Homo sapiens: one gene and its partners. The protein of the gene in region 2 purifies or fractionates together with the protein of the main gene of each other region. This does not show direct contact. Each region holds a gene or a part of one and is shown on either strand. Other genes may lie near its edges.

What was found. The genes of interacting proteins can lie anywhere in the genome.
Region 1: the proteins of ISX (region 2) and PKLR purify together in Homo sapiens (affinity purification with mass spectrometry; one large-scale study listed by BioGRID and IntAct). This does not show direct contact.
Region 3: the proteins of ISX (region 2) and TLE4 purify together in Homo sapiens (affinity purification with mass spectrometry; one large-scale study listed by BioGRID and IntAct). This does not show direct contact.
Region 4: the proteins of ISX (region 2) and NHLRC2 purify together in Homo sapiens (co-immunoprecipitation; one large-scale study listed by IntAct). This does not show direct contact.

Annotation. Positions count from the first base shown.
Region 1 is NC_000001.11:155,294,939-155,298,655, reverse strand, and holds part of PKLR (pyruvate kinase PKLR), read left to right. Parts: intron 1-2,899; coding exon 2,900-2,991; intron 2,992-3,087; coding exon 3,088-3,219; intron 3,220-3,353; coding exon 3,354-3,540; intron 3,541-3,717. UniProt on the Homo sapiens protein: Pyruvate kinase that catalyzes the conversion of phosphoenolpyruvate to pyruvate with the synthesis of ATP, and which plays a key role in glycolysis.
Region 2 is NC_000022.11:35,075,493-35,080,747, forward strand, and holds part of ISX (intestine-specific homeobox), read left to right. Parts: intron 1-304; exon of another isoform or gene 305-479; intron 480-5,255. UniProt on the Homo sapiens protein: Transcription factor that regulates gene expression in intestine. May participate in vitamin A metabolism most likely by regulating BCO1 expression in the intestine.
Region 3 is NC_000009.12:79,718,248-79,721,964, forward strand, and holds part of TLE4 (transducin-like enhancer protein 4), read left to right. Parts: intron 1-474; coding exon 475-724; intron 725-1,325; coding exon of another isoform or gene 1,326-1,391; exon of another isoform or gene 1,392-1,477; intron 1,478-1,798; coding exon 1,799-2,046; intron 2,047-3,493; coding exon 3,494-3,641; intron 3,642-3,717. UniProt on the Homo sapiens protein: Transcriptional corepressor that binds to a number of transcription factors. Inhibits the transcriptional activation mediated by PAX5, and by CTNNB1 and TCF family members in Wnt signaling.
Region 4 is NC_000010.11:113,899,444-113,903,160, reverse strand, and holds part of NHLRC2 (NHL repeat-containing protein 2), read right to left. Parts: intron 1,496-3,717; coding exon 1,264-1,495; intron 691-1,263; coding exon 568-690; intron 1-567. UniProt on the Homo sapiens protein: Required for normal embryonic development.

The sequences.
Region 1 (3,717 bases), on a different chromosome or scaffold from region 2:
GTTTGTTTGTTTTTAAAAAAAGAAAAAAAAGCTGGGCGCGGTGGCTCACGCCTGTAATCCCAGCACTTTGGGAGGCCGAGGCGGGCGGATCACCTGAGGTCAGGAGTTCGAGACCAGCCTCAACATGGAGAAACCCCGTCTCTACTAAAAATACAAAAAATTATCCGGGCATGGTGGTGCATGCCTGTAATCCCAGCTACTCAGGAGGCTAAGGCAGGAGAATTGCTTGAACCTGGGAGGCGGAGGTTGCGGTGAGCCAAGATCGTGCCATTGCACCCCAGCCTGGGCAACAAGAGCGAAACTCCGTCTCAAAAAAAAAAAAGGCCAGGCGTGGTGTTTCATGCCTGTAATCCCAGCACTTTGGGAGGCCGAGGCAGACTGATCACGAGGTCAAGAGATCGATACCATCCTGGCCAACATGGTGAAACCCCGTCTCTAATAAAAATACAAAAATTAGCTGGGCGTGGTGGCACATGCCTGTAGTCCCAGCTACTCGGAAGGCTGAGGCAGGAGAATCACTTGAACTGGAAGGCAGGGAGCAGAGATCGCACCTCTGTCCTCCAGCCTGGTGACAGAGCGAGATTCCATCTAAAAAAAAAAGAAAAGAAAAGAAAGAAAAAGTGAAAGTTTTAAGTGCTATGGGGAAAGAAATCAAGTGTGATAAGGGCATCAGGAGTACGAGGGTGAAGACAGGTTGCAGCCCTAAATAGGGAGGTCAGTTATTATTGAGTAAATGAGACCAAAGGGAAGACTTGAAGGAGATGAGAGAATTAGCCATGCAGAGACCTGGGGGAAGAGAATTCCAGGAAGAAGGATCAGTCAGTGTCAAGGCCTAAGTCAAGAAGGTTAGAAGAGCTAGAAACCATCAAGGGGGAAGAGCGGCAGACATGAAGAGACTGTGTACGGACAGGAAGATCAGGTGCAGCTTTGTAGGCCATTTTTAGAATTTGAGTTGCGTTTTCCTCCGAGTGAAATGAGAAACTGCTGCAGGGTTTTGAGCAGGGGAATGACAAGCTCTTATTTATGTTTTAATAGAGCCTCCCCTCCCCTGCTGCTGCACTGAAAATAGATGGGGGGTGGGGGGAAGGGTGCCCCTGCAGTATTTCTGGCTCAGACCAGTTGGCGGCAGTGAGGTGGTGAGAAGTGGTCAGATTCTGAATGTATTTTGCAGGTAGAGCTGACAGGATTTGCTAATTGATCGGATATGGGGTATGGAGTGTGGGCGAGAAAGAAAGGAGTCAAAGGTGACAGGTGACTCTGAGGTTTTTGCCATAAGGAACTGGAACGATGCATTAGCCACTGAGCAGGAAAGACTGTGGTGGAAGGGGTTGGGGGGAGAGCAGAAGTTTGCTTGGGACATGTTGAGTCTGAGATGCTTATTAGCCATCCAAATGTGATAGAGGGGGCAGTCAGGTACACAACTCTGGGTTTGGGAGAAAGGTCTGGATTGGAGAGACATTTGGGAGTTGGCTACATATAGATGGTATCTCAAGCCATGAGACTAGTTGAGACCACCAAAGGAGTGTAGGTGAAATGACGGAGAAGAGAACAGGGTATCTAACGTTAAGGGGAGGAACAAGGAAAGGAGACTGGGAAAGAGCAGCTAGTGAGGTAGGAGTCAACCAAGAGAGGGTGCAGCCCTGGAGGTCAGGTGAAGACAGTGTGTCAAAGAAGGATGTATGTTCAGGCTGCTGATGGGCCAATAGAGGAGGACTGAGCATTGAGCATTACATGGAGCAAAAACACAGAGGTTCTTGGTGACCTTGACAAGAACAGATGCAGTGGAGAGATGGAGGCCAACGCCTGAGTGGGGTGGGTTCAAGGGAGAATGGGGGAGGGGAACTAGAGGTAGCAAGTACAGATAACTCTTGCGATGAGTTTTGCTGCAAGTGAGAGCAAATACTGGGACTGAGGGGAAACCAGGAGATTAAGAGAATTTTTTTTTAATGATGAAAGAAATAACAGTAGGTTTACCTGCGGATGGGGATGATCCAGTAAAAAAGGAAAACATGGCTGGGCACGGTGACTCACACCTGTAATCCCAGCATTTTGGGAGGGCGAGGTGGATGGATCACCTGAGGTCAAGAGTTCAAGACCAACCTGGCCAGCATGGTGAAACCCCTTCTCTACTAAAAATACAAAAAAATTAGCCAGGCGTGGTGGTGCACACCTGTAATCCCAGCTACTCAGGAGGCTGAAGCAGGATAATCACTTGAACTGGGGAGGCAGAGGTTGCAGTGAGCTGAGATGGTGCCACTGCACTCCAGCCTGGGCGACAAGAGTGAAACTCCCCCCGTCTCAAAAAAAAAGAAAGAAAAAGAAAAGGAAAACATGGGTGTCACAGAGGACCACAGAATGGCTTAATTTATGTCCTTGAGCAGGTGAGAAGGAGGAGACCTAGTGCACAAGTGGAAAGACAGATAGGGACCGAAGAATGAGCCAACCTGCTCTCGGCTAGCAGCTGCCCCATAGCAGTGCAGGCATGGGATAGAACTCAGCTCTCCTCAGTCCATGAGGCCTCCTAGCTCTAAAAGCCCGCACCCAAACGCCCTCACCTGGCTCCCAGCCCCTGCCCTACACCCCATACCCTGGGGTAGCCGGGCAAGCAGCACTTACATACCCATGCCCATACAGTGCCCATACATGCCCATACAGTGACCTCAGGCCTGGCGGAGGGCACTCCCCTCCGATTTCCACACTGCTGCCTCCCCAAGGGGATGGATGTTGGCTTGAGAGGGAAGGGGAGTCTGTGATCTGTGGGCAGGGGTTGCATCAGGGAATAAAGATCAGGTAACAGGACGCCTGTGGCGTGAGGCGTTCTGAGAATGGTAATGGGTTGGGTTTGGTTGCCTCTCATGTTCTGGGGGAACGTTGTCTGAACGTGAATCTCTGGTTCTAGGGCCAGCATCTCGCTCCGTGGAGCGCCTCAAGGAGATGATCAAGGCCGGGATGAACATTGCGCGACTCAACTTCTCCCACGGCTCCCACGAGGTGCGGGACGGGCCGCCGGGCAGTGGGTGGGGCAGGAGGATGCCTCGAGGTCCTGGCCACCTTCCCCTGAAACCCTCGCTCCGCTCCCTCCCCCAGTACCATGCTGAGTCCATCGCCAACGTCCGGGAGGCGGTGGAGAGCTTTGCAGGTTCCCCACTCAGCTACCGGCCCGTGGCCATCGCCCTGGACACCAAGGGACCGGAGATCCGCACTGGGATCCTGCAGGGGGTGAGCAGTGGGGCTGGGACTCGCTGGGCCAGGGCCGGAAAGGCGGCGCCTGTAGGGTTGGGCCCAGGCGTGGGCAGGGGCGGGTCCCGGACTCCGGGGCTCAGAACTCACATCTCCTCTGGCTCCCTCCTTAGGGTCCAGAGTCGGAAGTGGAGCTGGTGAAGGGCTCCCAGGTGCTGGTGACTGTGGACCCCGCGTTCCGGACGCGGGGGAACGCGAACACCGTGTGGGTGGACTACCCCAATATTGTCCGGGTCGTGCCGGTGGGGGGCCGCATCTACATTGACGACGGGCTCATCTCCCTAGTGGTCCAGAAAATCGGTGCGGACGCGCCTCCCGCCCTGACCACATCCGTGCGCTGGGCACATTCCCTTCTCCTTGGCTCCCCCATCAGCCCTCAGACCGATCACACCTTCCCCTGGCCACGCGTTTTTGCCAGCCCGTCCCAGGAGTCCCCAGCGTGTAGACTCTGCGCTCACCCTGGGTTTGGGCTGGACT
Region 2 (5,255 bases):
CCCCACACACACTTCAATAAAGGAGCTCTACTGCTGTTTGTTTTGTAGGGTTTCCTTATGATTTCCTTTAAACAAAGGGTACAGTTGCTTTAAAATAAAAAAAGGAAGAAACAAAAATTTTTTTAAATACGTAAGTAAAAAGTATGGGTGAGTGTGGGTATGTGTGGGTGTGTGGTGGGGGGAGTACACATGCTAAAATTCATACATACAAAATATTATGAAAGTGAGACCACAGGTATGGAAGATGCAAGCTTCACACTGCCTAGAGAGTGCTAAGCCAGTCACCCCGGGGAGTGGCACTCACTTTCTGGTGAGTTTCTCAAGGGTCTCCTCCTAATTGTTCCAGTGATTTCTTTATTCTCATCTCTTTCCACTTTGCTGTTTTATTTCATTATTTATTTACACAAGAAGTTCCTGTGTATTACAGAAAAATAGAAAATACAGATAAAAAGGTAAAAGAAATGTGACTATAATTCTACCATCTCACCATCCAGTAATAATCACTACAGATATTTTGATTGATTGACTCATAGAGACTCATAGAAAATTTTTTTTTACAAATATGGAAGCCAGTTTGTTGTAAGCTGAAATTTCGCACTCTTAAATTAAAAAAAAAAAAATACCTATTGTGTTTCAACCAGGAGATTCACAACAGACCTCATAAAGAAATATTTGATTGATTTGAGCTTTGACGGATGAGTAGGAGTTCACCAGGCAAAGGAGGAGGACAAGGAATTCCAGACTCAGGAAGCGCAGAACAAGGACCTGGAAAATAAAAGTGCATAGCCGATTTGGGGAATCTGGAAATGGTCAGGTGGGACTAAAATTATGGAAATGACAACTGAGGGAAAGCAGATGATGCTAGAAAGATGGAATGGGAAAGGCCTTGAACGCCATGCTAAGGAGCTTGCCTTGTTCCCTGTGGGCACAGGGAGCCAAAGAAAGTCTGTGGCCTGACTAGCGAAATGAGGCCAGCGCAGGTGGGCCATGGGGAGACTCCTGCCCCGCACCCCACCTTCGTGTGTCAGGAGGTGTCCCCAGCCTACAGGAGGGCTGCAAAGGGGGCCCTGGGTGTCCTCCATGGTGAACCCACTGTTTTCAGAAGACGAGGATGAGGCCCATTTCCAGAGACTGCCCAGCGGCAAAGTCCCCCGGGCCTTTAGCTGCTCAACCAGGACCAATTAGCAGACCCCAGAGAAGAAGCAATCAGGGGAGGGTGCTGAGCGAGGAGAAACATCAGTTTATAATTAGGTGGCCTAATCACCTGTGTAAATTGTGTATTTCTTATGATCGATGTGCTAAATGGCTCAGGTTTAATTAAGTTCTGCTGATTCATTCTCTTTGAAGACCTATTAAAGTGTGAGTCACAGCTTGCACCATTAACAACGGGGAGAGGAGCAACTTGAAAAGGGTGGCAGTTCCCTGCTGCCTCCATCCCCCTCCACTGTTGTCCCCACATGCCCACTCCCTAGGTAGGCTGGGCTTTGACCACCTGCTTCTCGGCTTCTCTGCCCAGAACCTGGTAGGGAGATGCTGGGCTGGATGGGAACCCAAGGGTTTTCTCACTCCTGATCCAGTTCTCCTTCCAGGATGATCCATGCTGCCTCAGAAGTGTCCCCTCTTAGCAGGGACCCAGAACACCCTGGTTTCTCCTGGTGATTGAGAATCCTATCCTATGCATGGGCCAGGGCCATCAATGAGCTTGTATTTTCCAGCCTCTTGTCTAATAACGAGTTTCCAAAATTCTACATGCTGAACTGCATTCTACCTTCTTCTCTGTTCCATATTATGCTTTTCTGCCTTCTCCCACCTTGTTCCCTTATTTGTAACTCTCTGTGGTCTGTAACCCAAGCATCAGCTTTCCTGGCAACCCCTCACAGCCTCCTCTTTTCCTGTAGGAAAGTTGAAGTGCTGACCTTCATCATTCCTGAGCTGCCCCCTTGGACACTGCTCTAACCTCATTTCCATGACTCCAGGCTGAATTCTATCTGTCTCTCCCAACACTGCTCTTGGCCTTCTGATTGGGTCTTTCCAGTCATAATTCCTCACCAGTATGAATTTTAGGCACCCCTCCTTATTCCAAGAGAGGCCACTAAAACTGTGAGACACAAGCACAACATCATCATCATCATCATCATCATCATCATCACCTCTCAAGGACAAACATTTATCCTGAGAATGTGTAGTTCAAAGCTAATGAGAAAACATATTTTTCTCACCAGGCTATGACTTGGCAGGCAGCCCCTCCCCCATGAAGTCAGCAGTCAGGTTGTTTTGCAGAGCAGAGTTTAGATCCTTTCCTTCTTCACCCCACCTCTAAATTACCTTCTTCCAGTACTCTTGGGAACAGGAAAAAGCCATCATGTCTTAAAAGCTGCTCCTTTGGTTACACAAGTGGAAGCTTTGAAATATTTATTTTATTATAGATTCTATTCTTAGTCATAAATCCTTGTTCACCTGAGTTTCCTTCTGGGGTAAATGGAGGAGACGGCTTATTTTCGTTATGACCCGTCTTCTGTTTCTACTCCTCTGTTCTCCATATTATTTCATTTCCTGTATTCTGGTTCCACACCCCACATTCTCTCCCACAGTTCTATAGTCCCATGAAGACCTCAACTCCCTGCTGTCCTTGACACCTCAGTTTTCCAGGTCAACCTGGAATCTTCCCTTTTGTAATTTTTTTTTTTTTTGCAGCTTCCTACAGAACTGCACTATATCATTTACTATCATCTAATATGCTGACTGACTGAATGAATGAAGGAGTAAATCCAATACTATCAAGCATGGCTTGTTCATTTTGTACTCCTGCAGACTGGCCCTCAGTGCCTATTAGGTGCTGGTTACAGAGATGACATTCACTGAGCTCTTGGAATGAATTAACACCTGCCATTTCTCTCTACATCAATTCTGACTGACTTCAGCTATATCCCTTAAACACAACACCAGCTCTAAACATAGAATAAATATCTTTTTTTAAAAACCCATGAAGTTAAAAAGGCAGTGTGGACTTAGGGAGGGAAGGGGGTAGAGAAGGAGAGGCAGAGATGAGGCTCTCCTACAGAGGTGGGTCACAGGCCAATAACTCACTCTAGTGGGGAGTAATGTTCAAAGCCTCACTGCCTGCGACTCCCAAGAAGCTTCCAAAAATCCACAATAGTGAGCGAAAGTACTTTGAAAGGATAAAAATGGATTAACAACAAAAATGAGGGCTAGTAGAAGGGAGTGAAAGCAAAAGCAAACTTGAAATCCCATTTCTACAACTGAGGCAACCGGGCCTGGTGGCTTCCCAGAGAGAAATCTCACTAGCCCTGTCCCTTTCACCAAGTAAACGCGTTCTGCAGGCAAGCCTGCGGTGAGTGCTTTTGAGCCATTCATCCTCCATCCCAGAGACGGAGGATTACAAATGTCAGGGTGGATTTTGCCTTAGTGACCTGATCATTCAATGCCTCTCTCTCCCTCCATTCTACTGATGGGGAGACTGAGGCCCAGATAATGAATCCAGAATGTGGCACAAGTTGCATAGTGGAACCAGGAACACAGCTTGGATTTTCTGATGTCCAGCTCACTGGATTTTCTACTATCCAATGACAGCAGGATCGATCATAAGCACCAAGAAAGAAAACAAGTTAGTTGATTTCTTCAAGTGTTAAACCCTCAGAAGTGAAATCTATTTTTCACTGAGTGTCTACTCCAATTCTTAGTATGTGATGGCTTTACCTCTCTTATTTGGGGTAAAAAGAAAGTGGGCTGAGTGGGAGTCAGAAGACCTCAGCTGGAGCTCAGACTCCCACCCCTCCTTTGTAGCAGCTTCAGCTCACGTCAGTCATCCTTTCTGATGTGTGACATCTGACATTGTACAAAGTTTTAGACGAATCCTGTGGAAGTCTTTTCTGTCCAACAGGATTGAGAGCAGAGCCTGAATTCTACTTTTATCCATTTAAGACATATATTTGTTAAGCTCTCTCGGGGAGCCAGTTCCTCAGCTGGTCTCAGATACAGTCAGTTACAGTCCCTACTCAGATACAGTCCCCACCCTCCAGGGGCTCACAGCCTAGAGATGGATGACAGCAGACATACGAGGCTCCCTTCCCTGGGAGGCTTAGAGTTCTCTGAGCATGAGTGTAAGTGACCCTGGGACAAGAAGTACCTCGGTTCTTAATTATTTCCCAAGAGCGGTTTTTCTTACAAGGAATGTGGAAAAAATCAGGAGAGGCAAGGTGTTAGCTAGAATGGTAGGAATTCCACTGGGCCCCAAAAGTGAAGGTGATCTGGGGAGAGGGTTTGTGCCTTTTCTACAATCCCTAAAATCACAACACAGGGACAATCTGCAGTCCAATTAAGACAAGGATTTTAATTCTGTCCTCAGAAGTCCATGGTCAGGTAAACAAACCCACTGCCACCGGGTTTGGTCCTTCCTCCAATGTCCTCTGTTACCTGGCTCCAACCAGGAGCTACAGGCAATGCTGGTTGAGTCTCCCATTCTGCCAATGGGGCAATCTTCCTTACTCTCCATTGTGTGGCCAGGTTCAAGGACCACTTTTCTGTCCTTATCATAATTGGTCTCTCTGCAGCATGGACCCAGCTGACTGTGCCTTCTTTCAGTCCTCACTTTCCTCCTCCTTCAGAGGCCTCCCCTTCTCGGTCTCTTTGTTGCCTTCCCTACTGCTGAACCTCTACATGGTGAAGGCACCGCAAACTTGCTCCTGGGTCCTGTCCTCTTCCCCACCTACACTTTCTGCCTATGTGATACCCATTCCCATGACTACAAAGGCTAAATAGATGCTGATAGGTCCTTAATTTGAACCTCAGTCCTCAGTTCCCCTTTGAGCTCCAAACTTATCAATGCATCTTCCTATTCCATAGCTTCCTTTAGCTAGCCAATAGGCATCACACATTTAACATGTCCAAGATGAACACCTGATTTCCCCATAATACAAACACATGAACACACACACACACACACATCTTTTGCTCAAGCCAAAACCAAATTGTTGTCCCTGGTTTATCTCAGCCAAAAGATAATCCATCAATCTCACCTGACAGCCTCTCTCCAAAATATATCCCATAATTAGCTCTACACCTCCCTGCAAACAACTTCAGCAGCATGACAAGAGAGATGGTAGTTGATGGAGCTCATCCTACTAATCACATCCACCACCACTGTACCACTAGAGGGGTTTGATTCTCTTTCCTAGTTGTATAAAGAAAAATGTCCAGGATGAATTCCAATAGTTCCAGTTCAGTTTCCCCACACT
Region 3 (3,717 bases), on a different chromosome or scaffold from region 2:
TGATTTTGGCCTACTCATCTCCCTTAGTAAGTCCCTTGCCGGGAATGAATTGATCTATAGGCGAGGTCTCATCACAGGCCTCTGATTCATCCAAAGGAGAAGGCAATGCAGGTTTATAGGGCATCCCTGAAAGGTGGCTACTGCACTTGACGGTGGTTATCTCATTTAATTCTGTGAGGTATAGGTAGTGTTCTCTTCATTTTAGAGACTAGAACTGCTGTTCTAGTTTAGAGATTCTAAGTAACTACTGATGTCCCACAGCAGCTTGTACAGAGTCAGCCTGAGATCTGGCCCTGTAGCAGCCTAGCTGTATGATTCTGGAAATTATGTTCTTTACACTGTATGGACAAATTCGATTTGTTCGTAAATCACAAGTGGCACTGAAGGTGTTTTATTTCTCATCTCATTACACTGAACAGTTAAGTGACATTTTTTTACATTCCCCTCTTTCTTTTTTCCTCTCCATTGCCTTAGAGCATACTCCTTCCATGTTAGCGCAGATGGTCAGATGCAGCCTGTCCCTTTTCCACCCGACGCCCTCATCGGACCTGGAATCCCCCGGCATGCTCGCCAGATCAACACCCTCAACCACGGGGAGGTGGTGTGCGCGGTGACCATCAGCAACCCCACGAGACACGTGTACACGGGTGGGAAGGGCTGCGTCAAGGTCTGGGACATCAGCCACCCAGGCAATAAGAGTCCTGTCTCCCAGCTCGACTGTCTGGTGAGTGAACATGGATGAACAAGACTTAGACTTTCATTCAGAAAACAGGAGGGGCTGATGAGAGAACTGTATGTATGAGCAACACCACACAGTATTGATCCCAGGTGGATAGTTGCTCTTCAGGGGACTGCGATCTTTCACTTGGAGGTGTGTCTTTTGCTTCCTAGACACACAGTGATCTAGTTCTTCATGTGTGGCATGTGCACCATACTGATTTCATTAACTCTGCCTCCCATGGGAAAAGGCAAACCGCTTGTTTTCCTCTCTGATGGTTAAGCAAACTAAGAGCCCATACAGTGACTATGAGTGTGCACCTAAATATCATCTGTCACATGTAAAGAGTAACTTACTGCCTCATGTGGCAAATACTAGATAGCCCCTCAGCTGCTTCATTGGCCTTTTCCCTTGAGTTCCTTAGGAAATGTCAGTTTAGTAGAATTTTTGCTATAGCATGAGGCTACATCAGTTGAACATAATTAAATATACATAAGATTCCCGTAACCTCATGAGCTAGGAGGAACTTTTTTTTTCTGTAACTTAACACTCCATGATCAAGTCTTGCCTCTGGTGCAGCTTTCATCAAATGCATGATGCCCTTTAGTCACGTAATGCAGGCCCAGGCAAAAGGAACAGACTGCCAGGGATCTACCCCCTGAAACTTTCTTGACATCAGTAGCAGGACCTTTCAACAGCAGAACTGAGCCTGAGTCTACCAAGGTTCCAAGTTTGGATACTCCAAGACTGTGAGAGCTCCTGCATTAGTGTACGTGTGTATCTGTGTGTGCAAATGATGCAAGCAGTTGGTTAATTTGGTGGTGGTGGGAGTGGGTCTAGAGCTTTGCATTTTGATGCTAATTAAGATTAAATATCTCAGTACTACATTTTGTAGATCAACTTTAAGTACTTCCCTAATTTCATGTAATTTTCTAGCATTAATCCACTTTATCATTGTCATAAGTATAAACGGCTCATTAAACCAGGAGGGAACACAATACTTTTATGGATTTCTGCTCTCATGTTAATGCTGTTTTCCTTTCCTCATGAGTAATCTCTTGATGGTTTTTGTCTCTACAGAACAGGGATAACTACATCCGTTCCTGCAGATTGCTCCCTGATGGTCGCACCCTAATTGTTGGAGGGGAAGCCAGTACTTTGTCCATTTGGGACCTGGCGGCTCCAACCCCACGCATCAAGGCAGAGCTGACATCCTCGGCCCCCGCCTGCTATGCCCTGGCCATCAGCCCCGATTCCAAGGTCTGCTTCTCATGCTGCAGCGACGGCAACATCGCTGTGTGGGATCTGCACAACCAGACCTTGGTGAGGTAGGTTAGCAGGATCTGTTACCAGGTTGTGAGGAGGAGCCGATTTTACCATATTTTGCCAAAGTGCTGTGTATATAGGTATGGGTGTGTGTGTGTGTGTGTGTGTGTGTGTGTGTGTGTGTGTGTGTGTGTAAAGTGATATAATTATCTTACTAAAAATTGTTCAGAACAGGTCCATTTTAAGATGTTAAAAATAAATTATCAGTGTGAAAATCTTGTTTTCTGTAGTACTTGAACTTCATAAAATGAGGTCTTTTTTCCTTCCTTGACTTATACTAAAGCATCGCCAATTTGTTTTAATAAAATGAGGTCAATTTGACATAATTAATGTACATAAAGTTTCCATGACCCCATGAGCTCCATGGACATCTGTAATTTGCCATCTGTGCTTGCTAACAAACGATTATTGTTGATAGAGCCTCACTGAGAAGATTCACAGTGTATGGTACTGTCTTGAGTGCCATACACATCTAACAGGTTCATTCCTTCAGCAGATATTTAGCAACTCCCATGGGCCTATGCACTGTATTGGGTGCAACTCACTCTGAAATGGTCTAGATTATCTGTTGTCCCACCTTTGAGGTTGGATAGATATAACTTTACAAATGAGATTATAAAAGATTGGTGTTGGTAGATGGGAAAAGCTCTGAAATGATTTTCTAGGTGTCAATACCCTAAGAGATTAGCAAGCAAGTAGAATGATCAGCTACAGGTATGAAAAGGTTGTAACCAGAGGTAGCTACAAGTCAGGTGTGTAAAAGAAGAAGGCTTTACTATCTGTTATTTCAAAGTACTGAAACCTATAGATCCCAAAACAAATCATCACTTTCATTGCTTATCAGGCAGCCTCTTATGAGAAGCTGCTTCTAACCCTGTTTTCTCCTGGTGACCTTGGTACGTTTTGCCATGAGTGATTCCTGGGCCAGTAGTTCACACTGAGTGTCTTTCCAGGTGCCTTACTTGAGAGCCTCGCCTTCCGTCTTGCACAGCCACCCACAGACACATTGCTGCTCACTGGCAGGACTGGTCCTGTCGCTCCCTGTGCCATCCCCAGTCCTTCTTTAAAGGGAAAATTAAATTCTCTCTCCCTCATACCACAGTAATAGAATAGGTCTCAGAATATATCTTTAGTTAGTGCATATATGTGTAGGCGTGTTTTCTTTTGTTAATTTCAGAGATTTTTTTCCCATTAGTAATATCAGTCATGTTTTCATGAAAAAGTAATTTGAGGAATTCCTAAGTATTCAAAACCAAGCAAAAAGTACAGGACATGTGGCATCTCTTTGTATATGCTTTGTTATTACTTTGAATAATTAGAAACCATAATAAACCAAAATGAAATCTACAAATAAGGCCTGCATTGAAATTGAATCATCAAGGAATTCTAAATTGATTTTAACTAAAAGCTAACTTTTCAAGGGCTTTCCCTCCATTTTGACATTTTCAGGCAATTCCAGGGCCACACAGATGGAGCCAGCTGTATTGACATTTCTAATGATGGCACCAAGCTCTGGACAGGTGGTTTGGACAACACGGTCAGGTCCTGGGACCTGCGCGAGGGGCGGCAGCTGCAGCAGCACGACTTCACCTCCCAGGTATGATCCGTGGCTGAGGCATTTTAAAGATACGGTTTTAGGCTGAGGTGGGCGGATCACCAGGTCAGGGAATCGA
Region 4 (3,717 bases), on a different chromosome or scaffold from region 2:
ATTGCCTGAGAATTTGCTACCTTTGTTAAACTTAATGATTGACAGTTATGTCTCAATTATATTAAATTTATGGTCTCACATCATGAAGTACTGCATGAACATTTATTATCCACTGATTTTTGTAAAAAGTAAAAATGCAATAAAACTTAAGACAATTTAATAGACAAAAATGGAAATGCTGAAAACAAAATTATTTACTAACAAGCACTGTAACTATGCAACAGCTCAAAAACGTTCATTTGTTAGATGACATATAAATTTCCCTGCTACTTGCCTTCTCTTGATATACTGAATATGTTACTAAGCAGCTTTGATGGGTTGCAATTCACAACTGTTGGCTATTGCCATTGGAACTGGTTCTGTGCTTTCCCTAGTTCAGAATACCATCATAACCTCTTGGCAAAGAAAGGACCAAGAAAAGAGCAGAACAGGCTGGGTTATAGTTGTCAAAGACTGTTACTCCTTTCTATATTTTAGAGTGGCAGTTGTAGGAGGCTCACAGATCTTTCAGCATTTTAAATGCCACACACAAAAAGCAAGATATTATATAATTCTGTCACGACTCACCTTGTGATTGTAGGAGTCTGCAACATAAAGTAAATTCCTTTTTTTGTCCCATGTTACTCCAAGGGGGTGTTGAAGCTTTGCATTGATTCCTACTCCATCAACATCACCAAAAGCAAATAAATTCTTTAATTTTTTTTAAAAGAAAAGAAACAGCAGTTATTATAATTTTTACAGTGTTTTGTTAGAATATGAAGGAAAATTCAAACAGTTACAAATGGTATTTAAGTTAAAAGGGAAAATGCTGATTTTCATATAAATAGGGTTGGATACTTCATTCAGATTAGAAAAAAAATGACAGTATTTTGAACCTGTATTAATTGGTGGTGCTTAGTAGTTTTACTCACAATACTACATCTGGTCAGGAATAGGTCAAGTCCACTAGTCTGGTGCTCTTTCCACCCCACTGCCCAATATCTAATTTACATTTTTTTCTTTTCTCCAATAATCAATGCTTCATCCTTTCTTTCTCCCTGAAACCTTAACATTTATACATAATAAAGTAGAGTCAGTTCACTTTTCTTAGATGGTGTGTTCCTCACGTTGCTTTACATTCACATTTCCTTTGGTCTGACTTTCATTTTGATTCGCAGATAGGCCAAGGATGGTCTCTCTTAAATCTTATTAACTTTCCATAATTCACAAAATTGACAGCTTGCTCAGTGTCCGAGCGCACTGTGCAAGAGTGACTGTCATTACCATGGGGTCTCTTTCTCCTCCTACGAGGTGCTTCACTGCTCCATCTTTCAGTGAAACGGTTCTCACTGTACTGCTCTCACTATCTGCTACAAACAAGCAGCTCCAGGGATCTTCAGAGGCCAAGGAAAGGCCTGAAGGTTGGGCAAAACCTGCCTTGTGAGGATAGGCATTGTTTCGATTCTCTTCATTTCCACTTCCAGCAAACCTAAGGCAGGTTCCTTTTGTTAACTCACTGAAAAAGACAAGTTCATAGGTGGAGTCAACATGTGGTATATTGTGTGCAATTTAGTTCTTAAATAAATGAATGTGAATAATCAAATCAAAAGTGATAAGCCTCCTAAAAAAACAAACTAGTGATCTTGGTCTAGTTAAATTGTTCAAGTCAGCTTTCATTATCATTTTTCCAACCATTAACTTATTTACCCACTGTGTAGGGAACTTCTTACTTTACTTTGATACACACAAAACTGAAATCACTTTCAAATGTTAAACGACAAATCCCTGATAGAATTATAAGATAAAAATAATGATCAGATTATTGATGAGATAGGTTGTTTTTACTACCTTAAATTCTTAACTTCTTAGTTTCATGCAATATGAGGTTCGGAAAGGGAACTAAAAAGATCATCTAGCTCTTGATAGTTTAAAGCTTCAATTTTCATTAAAAATGTTTTGTGTTCTTATATATAAACAGAGACCAGCAAAAGGAATTAAAGAATAGTTTTTGAAAGTTGGCCAGGTCAGACATTACTATTATATGAAAAATAATATAATTGTACATAATTATCTTAAAATTACATGGGATAATTATGTACAATTATATCGATTGTACAAATCAATTTCTTATATACATTAGGGAAATTTCTATTTAAGGAACTATTGCAATGATTCCTTTTGTAATGCAGAGAAAGCTTTAGATCCTGGTTTCTAAGTTTATTCCAGAGAGACTGTAAAAAAGACATGGTAGTGTGTTGTGTTGAGGGAAGGGAAGCAGCTGACTCGGGACACAAAATGAGAGTCTGTGTAAATCATTTCTGAATATGGTACAACATGCAAAAGTCTGAACTCACCATCACTTACTGGCTAATATGTTCCCATAATAAGTTAGGTAGGGAGCAGGGGACAGAGGCAAAGGGATTTAGCACGCATAAAATATGGCCACTTATTCAAGAAACATATAAACATAGCAAGTACAATATATGTAATAACTAATATGCTGAACAAATTAATTGAAAGGAGTCTACAAGGAGTCTTAATACTTTAAAAAGGAGTTTCCTTAATTAAATAAAGAAAAGAGTAGGGAGAAACAATAACTTTTAAAATGCTAAGGGTCATTACTACCTGAAGATCGGTAATAAAGATAATACATCCTTAAAATTAAAACACAGGTCAGTGTGGTCCTAGTGCCAATTTCCTATTAAGAAGGAGAGTGACAACTCTACTTATGAGGAAATTCAGGCAGCTCTGAATCATCTATGCCTAAAACAGCCATCACCCAGAACAGCATATTCTGGCAACTTCTGTTACTTCTCTGCTGTTTATAATTATGCCTCATGTAAAATCTTATTGGTAATCTCACTGTTCAGGCTACTATCATCTCTTGCCTGGATAACAGCAATAGGCTCCTCAGTGGTATCTCTTATCTCTGTCTCTAGTCTTGTTCCACTCTGAGTGCTGCCAATGTTCTTTCAAAAACACAAATCTAATCATGTCACTTCCCAGCTTAAACCTTTCTAAAAAGGCTTGTAGAATATTCAGATCCCTAAAAGTACTCACAAGGCACAGTGTGATCTGGCTTCTACTGACATCACTAGTGCCAATTCTTGCCTGGAAAACTTTCCACTCTCCCTAACTCCTATACTCTTATCAGGTCACTGTTTAGTTGCCTCTTCCAAGAAGCCCTCCTTGACAACTCAAATCTTACTGATGTTGCGTCTTCCTCTTACTTATATAAGGAACAATTTCAATTTTTTTTTTTTTAAACGGAGTCTCACTCTGTCGTCCTGGCTGGAGTGCAGTGGCACAATCTCAGCTCACTGCAACCTTCCGCCTCCTGGGTTCAAGCGATTCTCCTGCCACAGCCTCCTGAGTAGCTGGGATTACAGGCAAGCGCCACCACGCCCAGCTAACTTTTTCTATTTTTAGTAGAGACGGGGTTTCACCATATTGTCATTCTGGTCTCGAACTACTGACCTTGTGATCTGCCTGCCTCGGCCCCCCAAAGTGCTGGGATTACAGGCGTGACCCACCGCACCCAGCCGAACAATTTCAATTTGCAGCGATTCCTTTTGCACACACTAACTTTTAATTGTTTGCTGATCTGATTCTTCCTCTGTAAGTTCACTGATGACAACCACATCTTTTCATTGTATCCTTAACATAGTGAGCATATTTCATCCCTATTGCCTAGCATAAATATTTGCTAAACGATTAAATGTCTTAAAACATTACATA